Linked DNA regions of Homo sapiens: regions 2 and 3 are each linked to region 1. The links come from fine-mapping of genetic effects on gene expression. A gene starts in region 1. Each other region holds a variant in brackets. All regions are shown on one strand. Distances are from middle to middle. Region 1 holds the start of ABCA3 (ATP binding cassette subfamily A member 3). Region 2 overlaps ABCA3 (ATP binding cassette subfamily A member 3). Region 3 overlaps ABCA3 (ATP binding cassette subfamily A member 3).

Region 1 (5,219 bases):
GTTTTGAAAAGGCCGGAAAAACGTGCAAGGTCTAACAAATTCAATTTGGAAATGGCAAGGATTGGTTTTGGAAAGAAAAATGACTGAGGATATGACCGGGTGAAGACAGGGCCAAGCAGCCAAGTTCACATCATTTTCTGGGACGAAGCAGAGAATGGGGAAGACATTTTGGATGGGGTGTTGCAGTCTGTGAAGACTGATGGGGAAAGGGGGTTTTTAGGATGTTTGCAGCGCATTAATAATCCACTCCCCCACCCATCCTGTAACTGCATTCAATTGTTTGGGGTTTTTTTTCCCCCTGTATGCTCATTACGGAGACTAGGCTATGTAAATCCCTAGCTATACTCACATTATATACTACCATTTATTTGGCATTTATGTGTCAGGTATTGTAGTAAGCACTTAAACATGCATTTTCTCATTTGACCCAAAAAAGAAAAGAATACACCAACAAAAAACCTTTGAGTTTGCTATTATTATTAATTACTATTATTATAATTTCAATTTTAGGGATAGGAAATTGAGACTCAGAAAGATAAAATGACATGTCTACATTAATTGGTGGGTCAAGATCTGAAGCCAGGTCTCTGTGATTCCACTGAACAAATTATTTAGCATGAGCCTCCTCCGCCCCAGGCACTCTAGGACCCTGGATCTAGGCATGAACCTGACGAAGTCCCTTTGCTCGCGGAATGGGCTATCCAGAACATCATCAGAGTGAAAGGTGCTATGTACACAGTAAAATGGGGAACGAGCCGCTCAAACCCTACTCCATCAGGACTCTTGGGGGTGGGCGATTTCCGCCCCCGGCCCGGGGCGTTGCATTAGGTCGGGGCCGTCGGGTCGTGGTGCCGGCGGCTGGCTGGGCGCGGGGCTGGCGGTGCGGGTCGCAGGCGGCTCCCAGCGGCAGGACCGGCAGCAGCCCTCCCTCACCCGGGGCGCCGGGACCACGGACGCACCTCACTGTGGTCCGGCCGCTGGCGGCGCTCGGGGACCCATTGGCCCCGGCCCGCGGCAACTGTCGGCCCCGCGCGGCGCCCGCCCTCATGCTGGAGCCCGGGAGTCCCTCACTCCACCTCTCCCTGCCACGCCAAGGGGGCCCGCCCCTCCCAGGCTCTCCTGCCTGGGGCGACCCAGTCCCACGACCCGGTCCGGCCCAGGGACACCCCGACCCACCTCCCCACTCCCGTCCCGTTAGACCGCGACCCGTCCCTGGGACCGCCTAATGTGACACGCCCGGGACCCTCCCTGCAGGCGACTCCCTGCAGGGCCCCCGCCCTGGACACTCCCTCCAGGTGACCCCGTTCCGCTCGCTCCGTGAGGTGACCCCGACCCTCTCCGGACCACCTCCTCAGGTGACCCCGACCCTCTCCGGACCCTCCCCGACCCTCCCCTCAGGTGAACCCGACCCTCCCCGGACCATCCCGTCGGGTGACCCCAACCATCCCCGAACCCCCCCACCCTCCCCTCAGGTGACCCCGACCCTCTCTGGACCCTCCTCACAGGCGGCCCCGCCCCACCCCGGGACCCTCCCGCCAGGTGACCCCGACAAGGCCGGGCCCTCCTGCCTGAGGTGACTCCTACCCGGCTGGGGACCCCCGAGGCCTCCCTCGCTCCTTAAGTGAGGGCGACTCCGCTCATCCCGGGACACCGCGCCTTCTCCTGTAAACTCGACGCCTGCCCCGACGGCCGAATTCCAGAAGGTTCCTCGCCGCCGCCTCGCCTTCGGTCGCGCCCCAGCGCCCGGCCAGAGGCGGGGAAGCCCTTCCCCCGGTGCCAGGAGTGACGAGGGCCCAAGGAAAGACAGTGCGTGAGGAGAAATGGAGAAACGGCCAAAGTCGAGTTTCCGGGTGTGAAGACTTCCACTGCTGCGAAACGCACGTGCGCAGAGTCATTCCTGTCAGAGGCCACCGCGCCCTCGCTCGGCTACCGCCGCTGCGCGCCCCCTGCTGGACATAGGCGCGGGCACAGAGCAGTGCGCAAGCACGGGCTGCCGCGCGGCCGGGTGCGAACCGCGTACTCGCAGGGTGGCTGACTGCGCACGCGCAAGTCAGAGCGCCCTCTGCCGGGCATGGGCGACATGCAGGGGGCACCGCGCAGGCGCGGGGTTGGGCTGGCCGGAGCGGCCGAGGCGGCCGGGGGTGGACCGGGCACCTGCAGGGGCGGCCGACTGCGCACGCGCCATCCGCGGCGCCCCCTGCAGGAGCCGGAGCGGCCGCTGCGTCCGCCAGTAGCGGGTTGCAGGCGCACCCTCCCCTCCAGGGCGGCCACGCAGCTGTCAGTGCCGCCGCCACTGCGAGGCTGGAGCGGAGCCCGGGTGGCCGAGGGAGGGGACCCCGCGAGAGGGCCGCGCGCCGGCCGCCGCCGCCCCGGCGCCCAGGCTCGGTGAGTGCCGCCGGGACCCGCCGCTCGCGCGCTCGTTCCCGGGGCTTGCGGTCCCCACCCGGGTCCGCCCTTCCCACCCTCGCCGGCCAGCTCGGGCCTCGGGCCCCCCCCAGCTCCGGCCTGGCCTGCGGGCCCCTCCCGCGACCCCGCATCCCCTCCGGCCGCGCCCGCGCCCGCCCCTCCTGCCGCGGCCTCGGCTCCGGGCGCTCCCTGCAGGTGCCGCTCCCTCAGCGTCGGCTCCCATCCGAGCCTTGGGCGTGTCCCGCACTGCGGGCAGTGCCTGAGCCCGCGCCGCGCGGGGAAGCTCGACCCTGCGGAGACTCGGCACGGCCCGGGCCCTCTGTGTGCGCCCAGAAGGTGGATATGTAGCGACCGACAGCCCCGGCCCCGAGGGATGCAGGCGTCCGCCGCGCACTTGCGGAGATGGCGCCGCTTTCCGGCCGCAGGGATGCCGGGCGCGCGGTGGCAAAGCCGCCCGGGTTGGATTCCGCCTGCTCCCACCCTCTGGTTCCGAGGAGCCTCCAAATCCGAATCCAAGGCCCACGGTCCGCGGCGGGCGTTTGCTGCGCCCTCCACTGTGTGGGAACGGGAAAGGGGAGCCGCTAGTCCAGGCGGAGGGGCTTGTGGCAGTCGCCGGAGGCCGCGTTCTCGGCGCCCTCGGTCAGGACGCCTGTGTGCATCGCGTCCGTGTGTCTTGGCTCTGTTCCAAGCCGGCTCCACGCTTCAGAAGGGCCGGGACGGCCTTATGGTCAGGGGCGTGGGGAAGGCGCTTGGTGTCTGTCGCACAGATGAAGCCATGTCCTCAGGGGGTAATTGCCGCTTGTTCTCCGGGTTACGTCCTGGACTGTGCACTCCGGGAAGGCGTCGATTGGATCTTGTTGGGGTTTGTGTTCCTGGAACTCCAGAAATGCCCGCTGAGTGAGTAGCCGAGACCCCGCGACAGCATGGAGCCCAGGCAGGGAGCACGTGGGAGAGGTTCACTCTTCTCCTGGGCATCCCGTCATTTTATTCAGATAGTCTGGGCGCTGCCTTTTGTAAACTTGAAAAGACTAAGACTGTTTTAGAAAGTTTGCCTCATGAGAAATGTAAGAGAAAGGGAAAAATAGATAAAAATGGATGTCATGGGAATCTCCCCCACACTTTCATTTTTAACTTCTTAGATAATTTTTCTTTTAAATTGAACCTTTGCTAACTCTACCTGAAAAACAGGACGACGTCTCTCCCTTCCTAAAGTGACTTACCACCATTCTGACCAGACAGGCTTTTGGAACAGGAGAGGGTAGCACGAGTTGTTTCTAAAAAGATGTTAGCCTTCCATCTGCATGAGCCAGGCAGTCTCATGGGAGCCCATTTTGACGTAGTCTCAACTGGGAAGGCCCAGGTAAGATCCCTAGTTTGCCATTTCTTCCCCAGCCCTGCTTCCGGAGACTGTGGAATCTATTGAGGGGAAGCATTCTGGAACTTTGGGGACGGCTCTGACGGGGAAGGCCTTGTGCACAATGGAAAGATGAATTGGAAGCCGGGCTAAGTGGCTCACACCTGTAATCCCAGCACTTTGGGAGGCAGAGGCGGGCGGATCACTTGAGTTCAGGAGTTCGAGACCAGCCTGGCCAACATGGCGAAACCTCATCTTTACCAAAAATATAAAAAATTAGCCGGGCATGGTGGCACGTGCCTGTAATCCCAGCTACTCAGGAGGCTGAGGCAGAAGAATCGCTTGAACATATTAGGTGGAGGTTACAGTGAGCTGAGATGGCACCACTGCCCTCCAGCCTGGGCGACAGAGCAAGACTCTGTCTCAAAAAAAAAAAAAAAAAAAAAGATGAATTGGACACAGTCCCTGCTCTTGGAGGGGTCTTAGGATAGAGCTAAAGAGATGCTTTATTCACAAGTAACTGTGACATAAGACAGAACAAGATGAGTACCACATGACACATCCAGAAAAGGTGCAACAGGTGACCAGAGGTGGAGGAGAGTTGGCTCCAAGAAGAGCAGAGGGTCTCCACCCAGGCTTCCCGTTACAATCACCTGGGAAGCCAGCCTGGGCCCAAAACAGCCCAGAATCTCCAGGGGTGGGCCTCAGATGTCAGTTTCTGTCTTAAAGTGCCCTGGAAAATTCCATTGTGCAGGCAGCCAAGACAAAGAGCCCCTGAAACAAGCTTCACAGAGGCCATGGTACTAGAAGTGGGCTGGGAAGTGATGGGTAGGTAGAGAAAGGTATCCGGGTGATATTCTAGGCAGACAAAACACTGAAGGCCCACATCTTGTGGGGAAGAGTGAGGCATGTCAGGCCCTGTCCTGGGAGAGTTTTGCAGACCCCATTCCCCTGAATGGCTCAGAGTGTTTGTGGTGTTGGAGAGGTTTGGAGTCAACAGGCAGACAGGTGCCTTTGCGGGAGCCGTGTAACGAGGTCCTTGCTAACTTGCTTGTTGGAGAACATCCATGGTTACCTCCCTCTGGGGACTTTCCATTGCCTCATTACCTCGTTTCCTGCACCTAGGGAGGCAGAACAGCTAGCTGGCTGGAGAACGGGACTGAAGCCACGGCAAGGGTTAGGGAAACAGGCAGTAGCAGAGATTTTGTGGAAGTCTGTCCCGATAGCTCCCTTTGGAACCACGTCTCTGGCTTAAAAATACACCCTATGAACCCCTGCCAGAGCTTCATTGTAAACGCAGAGCCTGTGATCCTAGGGAGGCAGCCGCCTCCAACTCCAGGCAGCGCCTGTGGTGCTGAGTATGAGCGCCAGCAAGCTAGGGCTCCATCAGGGCCTGCGATGCCAGTGCCACAGCCTCAAACCAGCCTCCCCAGCTCTCAGCCAATGGCTGTGGGTTGTG
Region 2 (5,219 bases), 33 kb after region 1:
GATCTGCCCACCTCAGCCTCCCAAAGTGCTGGGATTACAGGCATGAGCCACCACACCCAGCCGGGGTTTTTTTCATAAATGTATGTTGACTTGTAGTGGATTTGTTACTGTTATTCTTAAATTTAACAGAATTTTTAAATGTTCTTAGTATTAATTTCTCACAGAATAAATATGGATATATATATATAACCCACATTTAAAAAGCCCTTTGGTGTCGTTAATAATTTTTAAGGATAGAAAAGGGTCTTAAGACCAAAGATTTTGATGGCTGGGCACGGTGGCTCAGACCTGTAATCCCAACACTTTGGGAGGCCAGGGCGGGAGGATCCCTTGAGCCTAGGAGCTTTAGACTAGCCCTGACAAAATAGGGAAACCCATCTCTACAAAAACATTTAAAAATTAGCTAGGCATGGTACTGCGTGCCTGTGGTCCTAGCTGCTCTCCCTAGCCGGAGGTGGGAGGACTTCTTGGGCCCGGGAGGTGGAGGCTGCAGTGAGCCATGATGGCACCACTGTACTCCAGCCTAGGTGACAGAGGGGGACTCGATCTCAAAAGGAAACAAAGAAAAGAAAACCAAACAGTTTGAGCACTGCTGGCATGGACAGAAAACATGCCCATCTCTCCACTCTCCGTAATCCACTCTCTCACCTCTTCCGGCTCCTTCTCACATGTCACCTCCTCGAAGCCTTCCCGGCCGTCGGGAGCCTCTTCTCCCATCCTGCGCCTCCTTGCTGCATCCAGCATGTGTCTCCATCCAGCACACCTTGCTCTCTGTCTCCCCGCTATATTCCAGGCGTGGGAGGGGAGGGATTTTCTCTGTTTTGTGTGGGGCTGCCTCCCGGTGCTTAGAACAGAGTAGGTGCTCAGTGCGTATCTGACGAATGCATGAATGAACAAATGAGAGAGATCAGGCAACCCAGGCAGAAGTGGGGCTTAGGCAGGCTGGGCACGGTGGCTCACGCCTGTAATCCCAGCACTTTGGAAGGCCAAGGCCGGTGGATCACGAGGTCAGGAGATCGAGACCATCCTGGCTAACACGGTGAAACCCTATCTCTACTAAAAAATACAAAAAATTAGCCGGGCGTGGTGGCGGGCACCTGTAGTCCCAGCTACTCAGGAGGCTGAGGTAGGAGAATGGCGTGAACCCAGGAGGCGGAGCTTGCAGTGAGCCGAGATCGTGCCACTGCACTCCAGCCTGGGCGACAGAGCAAGACTCCTTCTCAAAAAAAAAAGAAGTGGGGCTTAGGCGGGAATCAGGGGTTTGGGATCAGCCACGTGAGGTGTGCAGTGTCAGGGAGGCAGCTGGATGGGAGGTGGAGGAGGGGCTGGAGGTGTTGGTGTGGGGGTCCCTGGGATGGGGGCACTACTCACTTGGAGAAGGGGCTGCCGGCCACACCTGGTGTCCCCCCGTGCTGGAGCTTGTGTCCCGTGTAGATGGCAAGTGCCAGGAGCAGGTTGGGTGGCTCGGCCCCAGGAGTAGGGGGTTGCCTGTACCTCGGGGAGCCCAAGCCCCTTTTGAGGGCACTGACGCTCACGCCCCCCGGGTCTTCCAACACCTGCAGCCAACATGGCAGCAGCCTTCGGAGGCTTCCTCTACTTCTTCACCTACATCCCCTACTTCTTCGTGGCCCCTCGGTACAACTGGATGACTCTGAGCCAGAAGCTCTGCTCCTGCCTCCTGTCTAATGTCGCCATGGCAATGGGAGCCCAGCTCATTGGGAAATTTGAGGCGAAAGGTGAGTGTTTGCCTTGTCCAGCCTGTTCTTTCCGAATCAGTAACCTTCGAGAGCACCCAACCACAAGAGCCGCCAGCAGCAAGGCTCCACCTGGGACGGTTGGCAGGCAGTTGGGACCACTGAAGGCAGCAGCATCCGCATACAGCGCTGAGTGTGGGCTGGATAGCTGGACACGGCCCCGGGCGAGGGAAGCCCAGCTCCACGGCACAGCAGGAGGTGATGGGAGCCACAGGGCAGTGGGCCGAAGAAGCC[CA/A]AAGCTCGGAGGACAAGAGGGTTGGAGCATCCAGCAGCGTTGGCACCACATACGCATCTGACTGATGGTGGGATCTAAGTCGGTGACCTGAGCCTCTTTCAGTTTTCATTTTTTTTTATTTTAAATATTTTATAGAGATGGGGTCTCACTGTGTTGCCCAGCCTGGTCTCAAACTTTCGACCTCAAGCAATCCTCCTGCCTCAGCCTCCTGAATAGCCAGGATTACAGGCGTGAGCCACCACATCTGGCCTCTTCCAGCTTCCTGAGACATTCAAAATTATTACATCAGAAAGGCTGGGCGTGGTGGCTCACGCCTATAATCCCAGCACTTTGGGAGGCTGAGGCCGGTGGATCACGAGGTCAGGAGATCGAGACCATCCTGGCTAACAAGGTGAAACCCTGTCTCTACTAAAAACACAAAAAATTAGCCGGGCGTGGTGGCAGGCGCCTGTAGTCCCAGCTACTCGAGAGGCTGAGGCAGGAGAATGGCGTGAACCCAGGAGGCGGAGCTTGCAGTGAGCTGAGATCGCACCACTGCACTCCAGCCTGGGTGACAAGACTCCGTCTCAAAAAAATAAAATAAAATTATTACATCAGAGATCTCAAAGTCTAGGGTTTTGAGGACTTTTTTTCTTTTTTTTTGAGACAAGAGTCTCGTTCTGTTTCCCAGGTTTGAGTGCAGTGGTGCGATCTTGGCTCATCTCAACCTCTGCCTCTGGGTTCAAGTGATCCTCCCACCTCAGCCTCCCGAGTACCTGGGATCACAGGCATGCACCACCATGCCCATCTAATTTTTTTGTATTTTTAGTAGAGAGGGGGTTTTGCCATGTTGGCCAGGCTGGTCTTGAACTCCTGACCTAAAGTGATCTGCCCTCGGCCTCCGAAAGTGCTAGGATTACAGGAGTGAGCCACTGAGGCTGGCTGGGTTTCGAGGACTTTTCATCAACCACTGCTCTTGGTAAAGGGTAGAATTAGCATCTTCCCAGTGCCTCCTGTATTGATTGGTGATGGCAGCAGAGACGCCTAAGAGAGAAACAAGTGATAAACGACAGCATTTTTTTTCTTTTCTTTTTTGTTTTTTGAGACAGGGTCTCGCTGTGTCACCCAGCCTGGAGTGCAATGGCATCATCACGACTCACTTTTTTTCTTTTCTTTTCTTTTTTTTTTTTTTTTTTTTTTTGAGACGGAGTCTCTCACTCTTTCACCCAGGCTGGAGGGCAGTGGCGCAATCTCGGCTCACTGCAAGCTCCGCCTCCCGGGTTCATGCCATTTTCCTGCCTCAGCCTCCCAAGTAGCTGGGACTACAGGCGCCCGCCACCGTGCCCAGCTAATTTTTTGTATTTTTAGTAGAGACGGGGTTTCACTGTGTTAGCCAGGATGGTCTCGATCTTCTGACCTTGTGATCCGCCCGCCTCGGCCTCCCAAAGTGCTGGGATTACAGGCGTGAGCCGCCCACTTTTTTTCTTAATTTTTATGAAATTAAATTGAGTAAAACACTTCCTTGGTCGGCCTTTGGCCTGTGGGCTCTCATTCTGCAAAGCCTGCTGTGGGCACCAAACCTGGTCTGAGCCCCTCCAGTTAGGCCTCCTCCCAACATTGCTGCATTGGGGGTCAAGTCTCCAACACATGAATTTGGGGGGCCCAGTCAAGCCATGGCACCATGCAGTTCCTAGCTGCAGCTTGCCAAGGTCTGGGTCTGTGGAAGGAGGTGGGAGTGTCCAGCGTTGCTTTGTCTTTCATTAGAACGGTTCTCTACAGTCGGCAGTGTCTTCTGACACTTTAGCTTTTACATATCTGTGTTTCCATGTTTACTCGTGTGTTGATAAAATGTAAACTTTGTTCTTTTGCTTTCTTTTTAACAATTTTTTTTTGGAGATAGGGTCTTACTCCATTGCCCAGGCTGGAGTGCAGTAGCATGATAATAGCTCACTGTAGCCTCGACCTCCCAGGCTCAAGTGATCCTCCCACCTCAGCCTCCTGAGTAGCTGGACTACAGGCACGTGCCACCACACCTGGCTAATTTGTCTGTGTTGCCTAGGCTGGTCTCAAACTCCTGGCCTCAAGCAATCCTCCTGTGTCAGCCTCCCAAAGTGCTGGGATTACAGATGTGAGCCACCACGCCCAGCTAGAGTGAATGTTATTAAAACAGACAAATCTCTGGTTGTTTGAAAGTGCAAATTCACCAAGGCTGGAGAGCATTATTTCCATCAGGGTCCTCGGCCAAACAGAGGGTGTTTGGACACACAGATCCCCAGCACTGTCAGGACTGCAATGTTGGCAAACCAGAGAGATGATGAGAAACACGAGCTCCATTAAAGAGAGCTTTACACGTGTTTGAAATATTTCTGTGATTAAAAAAGACTTATGGCCGAGGCAGGAGGAAGGCTTGAGGCTGGAGTTTGAGACCAGCCTGGGCAACATAGCAAGACCCCCATCACTACAAAATTAAAATGTAAAAAAATAGTTATACTAGGCTGGATGGGGTGGCTCACACCTGTAATCCCAGCACTTTGGGAGGACGGGTGGATTACTCGAGGTCAGGAGTTCAAGACCCACCTGGCCAACATGGCGAAACCCTGTCTCTACTAAAAATACAAAAATTGGCGGGGCGCGGTGGCTCACGCCTGTAATCTCAGCACTTTGGGAGGCTGAGGTGGGCGGGTCATGGGGTCAAGAGATCGAGACCATCCTGGCCAACATGGTGAAACTCCGTCTCTACTAAAAATACAAAAATCAGCTGGGCATGGTGGCGCACACCTGTAGTCCCAGCTACTCGGGAGGCTGAGGCAGGAGAACCGCTTGAACCTGGGAGGTGGAGGCTGCAGCGAGCCAAGATTGTGCCCCTGCACTCCAGCCTGGCAACAGAGTGAGACTCTGTCTAAAAAAAATACAAAAATTAGCCAGGTGTGGTGACGTGCTCCCGTAATCCCAGCTACTCCGAAGGCTGAGGCAGAAGAATCATTCAAACCCCAGAGGCAGAGGTTGCAGTGGGCCAAGATTGCACCACTGCACTCCAGCCTGGGTGACAGAGCAAGACTCTATCTCAAAAAAATAAAAAATAATAAACAAATAAAGACTTATACTGGCCGGGTGCAGTGGCTCACACCTGTAATCCTAGCACTTTGGGAGGCCAAGGCGGGTAGGTTGCCCGAGCTCAGGAGTTCGAGACCAGGCTGGGCAACACGGTGAAACCCCATCTCTACTAAAATACAAAAAAATTAGGGCTGGTT
Region 3 (5,219 bases), 39 kb after region 1:
GGCGTGGTGGCTCACGCCTGTAATCCCAGCTCTTTGGGAGGCCAAGGTGGGTGGATCACGAGGTCAGGAGATCAAGACCATCCTGGCTAACAAGGTGAAATCCCATCTCCACTAAAAATAAAAAATAAAAAAAAAACTAGCCGGGTGTGATGGCGGGTGCCTGTAGTCCCAGCTACTCGGGAGGCTGAGGCAGGAGAATGGCATGAACCTGGGAGGCGGAGCTTGCAGTGAGCCAAGATCGCGCCATTGCACTCCAGCCTGGCAACACAGCGAGAGTCTGTCTCAAAAAAAAAAAAAAAAGAGAGAAAAAAAGTTCGGATTCCTGAAATCTATAGCTCATTCCCACTGGTGAGATGAACACTGTTGACATTTGGTATGTACTTTGCTGGGTTTCCCTCTCTACACTTACTGTCATAGAGCACAGATGGATGGACATATAGCATAGTTTCATAAAAATGTGATTGGAGGCCGGGTGTGGTGGCTCACCCCTGTAATCCCAGCACTTTGGGAGGCCAAGATGGGTGGATCACCTGAGGTCAGAAGTTTGAGACCAGCCTGGCCAGCATGGTGAAACCCTGTTTCTACTAAAGAAATACAAAAAAAAAAAATTAGCTGGGTGTGGTGGCAGGCGCCTCTAATCCCAGCTACTTGGGAGGCTGAGGCAGGGAGAACTGCTTGAACCCGGAAGGCGGAGGTTGCAGTGAGCTGAGACTGTGCCATTGCACTCCAACCTGGGCGACAGAGCGAGACTCCATCTCAAAAAAAAAAAAAATGGGATCGGGGTGGACATAGTCGCTCATCCCTGTAATCCCAGCACTTTGGGAGGCTGAGGTGGAAGGATGACTTGAGGCCAGGAGTTAGAGACCAGCCTGGGCAACATAGTGCAACCCCATCTCTACAAAATAAATAAAAAATTTAAAAAATTAGCCAGGCGGCACATGCCTGTGGTCCCAGCTACTTGAGAGGCTGAGGCAGAAGAATCACTTGAGCCCAGGAGGCTGCAGTGAGCCATGTTCACACCACCACACTCCAACTTTGGTGAAAAAATGAGACCCTGTCTCAAAAAAAAAAAAAAGAATCATATTGTAAAAAATGCTTACAAGTTGCTTTTCTTAACCTAACAGTACAACTCAGATATCTTAAATACATATATATGTTTGTCTATTTATAAATATAGTTTTAAACTATTATCTAAACATATTGATGAATGTTGTTATATTTATAAATATATTTCTACCTAAGTATTACCTTTTTAAGAATCACTGCCGAGACCAGCTCGGTCGGGGAGACCTTAACCCAGCGGCACTAGAGGAATTAAAGACACACACGCAGAAATATAGAGGTGCGAAGTGGGAAATCAGGGGTCTCACAGCCTTCAGAGCTGAGAGCCCCGAACAGAGATTTACCCACATATTTATTAACAGCAAACCAGTCATTAGCATTGTTTCTATAGATATTCCATTAACTAAAAGTATCCCTTAAGGGAAATGGATGGATGGGCCGAATTACTTGCAGCAGGAACACGCCCTTAAGACACAGATCTCTCAGGCTTTTGTTTGCGGCTTAAGAATGCCTTTAAGCGGTTTTCCGCCCTGGGCGGGCCAGGTGTTCCTTGCCCACAACCTTCCAGCTTGGGTGTTATGGCCATTATGGACGTGTTACATTGCTGCAGAGATTTTATTTATGGCCAGTTTTGGGGCCAGTTTATGGCCAGACTTTGGGGGGCTTGCTCCCAACAAACCACCTTCATTTATAGTGACACACAGTGTTCCATTCTGTGGGCCCATCAACATATACTTAACTGATTCCCTACCGATGGCTAGTTAAGGTCATTTCTTTTTTTTTTTTTTTCTTTGATTCGGAGTCTAGCTCTGTTGCCCAGGCTGGAGTCCAGTGGCGCGATCTCAGCTCACTGCACCCTTCACCTCCCAGGTTCAAGTGATTCTCCTGCCTCAGCCTCCTGAGTAGCTGGGATTACAGGCACCCACCACTACACGCACCTAATTTTTTTTGTATTTTTATTAGAGACGGGGTTTCGCCATGTTGGCCAGGCTGGTCTTGAACTCCTGACCTCAGGTGATCCACCCGCCTCGGCCTCCCAAAGTGCTGGGATGACAGGCGTGAGCCACCACCTCCAGCCGAGGCCATTTCTGTTTTCATTCTTTGCTTCCACAAGTAGTTATCAAGTGTTCACTACTGTAATCCATCAACTGTAAGATGACACTGACCGTTAGAGGTAATGGTTACTTTGTCTATCACTAAGAAAGAAAAATGCCACACTTACACTATGGCATTTTATAGTTTAAGATGCATTCTGATTTTTTTTTTTTTTTTGAGACGGAGTCTCGCTCTGTCGCCCAGGCTGGAGTACAGTGGTGCCATCTCGGCTCACTGCAAGCTCCGCCTCCCGGGTTCACGCCATTCTCCTGCCTCAGCCTCCCGAGTAGCTGGGACTATAGGCGCCCACCACCACGCCCGGCTAATTTTTTTGTATTTTTAGTAGAGACGGGGTTTCACCGTGTTAGCCAGGATGGTCTCGATCTCCTGACCTCATGATCCGCCCGCCTCGGCCTCCCAAAGTGCTGGGATTACAGGCTCGAGCCACCGTGCCCAGCCAAGATGCATTCTGATTTTAAAATCACTTTACATATGAGAGCTGTGTCCCTGAGAACCAGTGGAGTGCAGTGTGTGCCAGATGCCGTTCCAGGTGCTGGAAGTGCACTGGGCGTGGAGCTGCGGGTAAACGAGTCCCCGCCCCGCAGCTGCCCTGGCACTGATCCTGCCAAGGCACTGCTTCCACCTTCCCTGCTGCTCTGCCCGCACCACTGTGTCGACTGCCTCCATGTAGGCACCAGGCTGTCCTCGAGGGCACTGTGTGAGGTGTGTGCCTGTGTTCTTACCCCATGCACTGAGTTATTTCTGTGATGGCCACAGAGAAGATGGGAAGAGGCTTCCTCATAGTAGAGGGAGGCGTGGCGCCTTCGGCTTCTCTTGCTTACAGTCATGAACTCATGTGGGGCTTGAGCAAAGAAACAGCCG[G/A]GTGGCATGGGGACACAGCTTTCTTTCCATTTTGGCTCCAACATCCCTCTGGACTGGAGCGTTAGATAACTTCTGTCTATGAAATTTCATAGCTGACAAACTCCCTTTGCCCTGTATCGGATCTGAGTTCATCTTCACAAGCCTGTATGTAACCATTACACCCACTTACCAGGTTAGGAAACTGAGGCTTAGAGCCTTCACAGGGATGAAACAAGTTGGGACTCTCTGGGGCTCTCCCTGAGTAGCGCCTTCTCCACAGCAGTGCCTCGAAGTCCTGGGACAGAGGCTGCATGGCTGTGTGCATCTAGTGTGTCTGCTGGTTGTTGCTTTGCTCGTCACAAACAAAACAAACTGACAGCTGTCTGCTTCCCTCCCAGCCCTCCTATTGGTGTGGGAAGCCAAGGGCGGTTGCAGGGAAGGAGGAAGAAGACAGTGACCCCGAGAAAGCACTCAGAAACGAGTACTTTGAAGCCGAGCCAGAGGACCTGGTGGCGGGGATCAAGATCAAGCACCTGTCCAAGGTGCCGCCTCCTGTGGGGACAGGGAGGGCCGGGGCTGCCAGGACCATGGGAAGACTTACCAGCACGGCAGTGAGACCTCATAGCCCGTCAGGCGCTCCCTCTGAGCCTTGCTCCCTCCTGCCCTGAAGGAGGGCAGGAACCCTCCGCTGCCCTCTAACCGGTTCCCCAGGGCACAGACCACATCTCCAGCTTCTCAGGAAATGCCAGACTCAGCCGTCCAGCAGTGCCTCGGCCTCATGGGCCTCCCAGGGTTGCAGAGACACTGAGGGTGTCTGGGACGTGTTGGGGCTGGGGGAGACCGGAGGGGAGCAGCCAGGAGCAGCATCTGCCCGAAACGTCCCTCCCCTCTGCACACTGATGGTGACGCTAGGCTTGGTTCCTTCTGAGACGGTCGGGCAGGGGAGCAGGAGAGGCCTTGGCCGTGGGCCTCGGGGCTGTGGGTAGCCCAGGGCAGCCTCTGCCTTTCCTGCAGGTGTTCAGGGTGGGAAATAAGGACAGGGCGGCCGTCAGAGACCTGAACCTCAACCTGTACGAGGGACAGATCACCGTCCTGCTGGGCCACAACGGTGCCGGGAAGACCACCACCCTCTCCATGCTCACAGGTGAGGGCCAGGCGCCTCACGCCCCTGCCACCAGCAGGCCCCCCTTTAACACCATCTCAGCGCCAGCCCCGCCTCACTCCCTCAATGGGGCTTTCGGGCCTTCCCCAACCACAGCGGCAGGAGATGCACCTCAGCCCTGCAGGCCCAGGGGCACAAGCAGGGACTGCCCTCCTCACCGCCTCTGTCCGGGACATGCCGGGGGACCCCCAGGGACCCCTGCCCTCCTCACCGCCTCTGTCCGTGAATGCAGGGGGACCCCCAGGGACCCCTGCCCTCCTCACCGCCTCTGTCCGTGAATGCAGGGGGACCCCCAGGGACCCCTGCCCTCCTCACCGCCTCTGTCCATGAATGCAGGGGGACCCCCAGGGACCCCTGCCCTCCTCACCGCCTCTGTCTGTGAATACCCAAGCTTGACAGGGTCAGTGAAAACAGAGGCCACCACGCAGGAGCAGCTCAACCCCATGCTAATTCTGTCACCAAACCCCTCTCTGAGAGCTCTCCCCTGTGCACCACACCGGCCACTGGCATTTCACTCTGTCTTCCCCAAGCACCAAAGTGTCTGGCAGTGGCACAGGCTGGGACCCGGGGCGGGGGCTGATTGTGGTGACTCTGTGTGTGTGTGTCGTGGGTTTCTCCTCCCTGACCAGCTGTGCGTCCCAGTGGCAGGGCTGTTTCCATGCCGCTTCTTTTTCCCACTGGCCCAGCCAAAGCCCACCCCAGTGGGAGTGGGGTTCCGTGCCCTCTCATGGGCAGGGTCCTCAGAGGAAATTAGGGGAGACAGAGAGGGGGTGGGGGGTCATTACCGCGGGTGCTGACGAGCAGGATCTTCATGCTGAATGTGGGGTCTCCTGCTGGGCCCCAGGTCTCTTTCCCCCCACCAGTGGACGGGCATACATCAGCGGGTATGAAATTTCCCAGGACATGGTTCAGATCCGGAAGAGCCTGGGCCTGTGCCCGCAGCACGACATCCTGTTTGACAACTTGACAGTCGCAGAGCACCTTTATTTCTACGCCCAGGTGAGTTGGGGGCCAGGGGTGTGCAGGGGTGTTTCCACTG

What was found. PIP is the estimated chance that this variant, and not a neighbour inherited with it, causes the effect.
Region 2: its variant is the best candidate, but not a certain one, in a credible set for the expression of ABCA3 in cerebellum (GTEx, PIP 0.74).
Region 3: its variant is the best candidate, but not a certain one, in a credible set for the expression of ABCA3 in thyroid (GTEx, PIP 0.61).

The regions. Positions count from the first base shown.
Region 1 is chr16:2,337,739-2,342,957 of GRCh38, reverse strand. ABCA3 (ATP binding cassette subfamily A member 3) reads left to right here and starts at 2,230. Exons shown (of 33, transcript NM_001089.3): 1 at 2,230-2,385. It also overlaps the pseudogene ABCA17P. RefSeq lists silencers at 1,920-2,379, 2,550-2,609.
Region 2 is chr16:2,304,967-2,310,185 of GRCh38, reverse strand. It overlaps ABCA3 (ATP binding cassette subfamily A member 3), which reads left to right. Exons shown (of 33, transcript NM_001089.3): 11 at 1,563-1,736. Among named protein-coding and RNA genes, the nearest start is that of MIR4717, 33 kb to the right of the region's middle. The variant CA/A (reference allele first, on the strand shown) is at 1,989.
Region 3 is chr16:2,298,346-2,303,564 of GRCh38, reverse strand. ABCA3 (ATP binding cassette subfamily A member 3) reads left to right here. Exons shown (of 33, transcript NM_001089.3): 13 at 3,417-3,560; 14 at 4,033-4,162; 15 at 5,025-5,179. Among named protein-coding and RNA genes, the nearest start is that of MIR4717, 26 kb to the right of the region's middle. The variant G/A (reference allele first, on the strand shown) is at 3,040.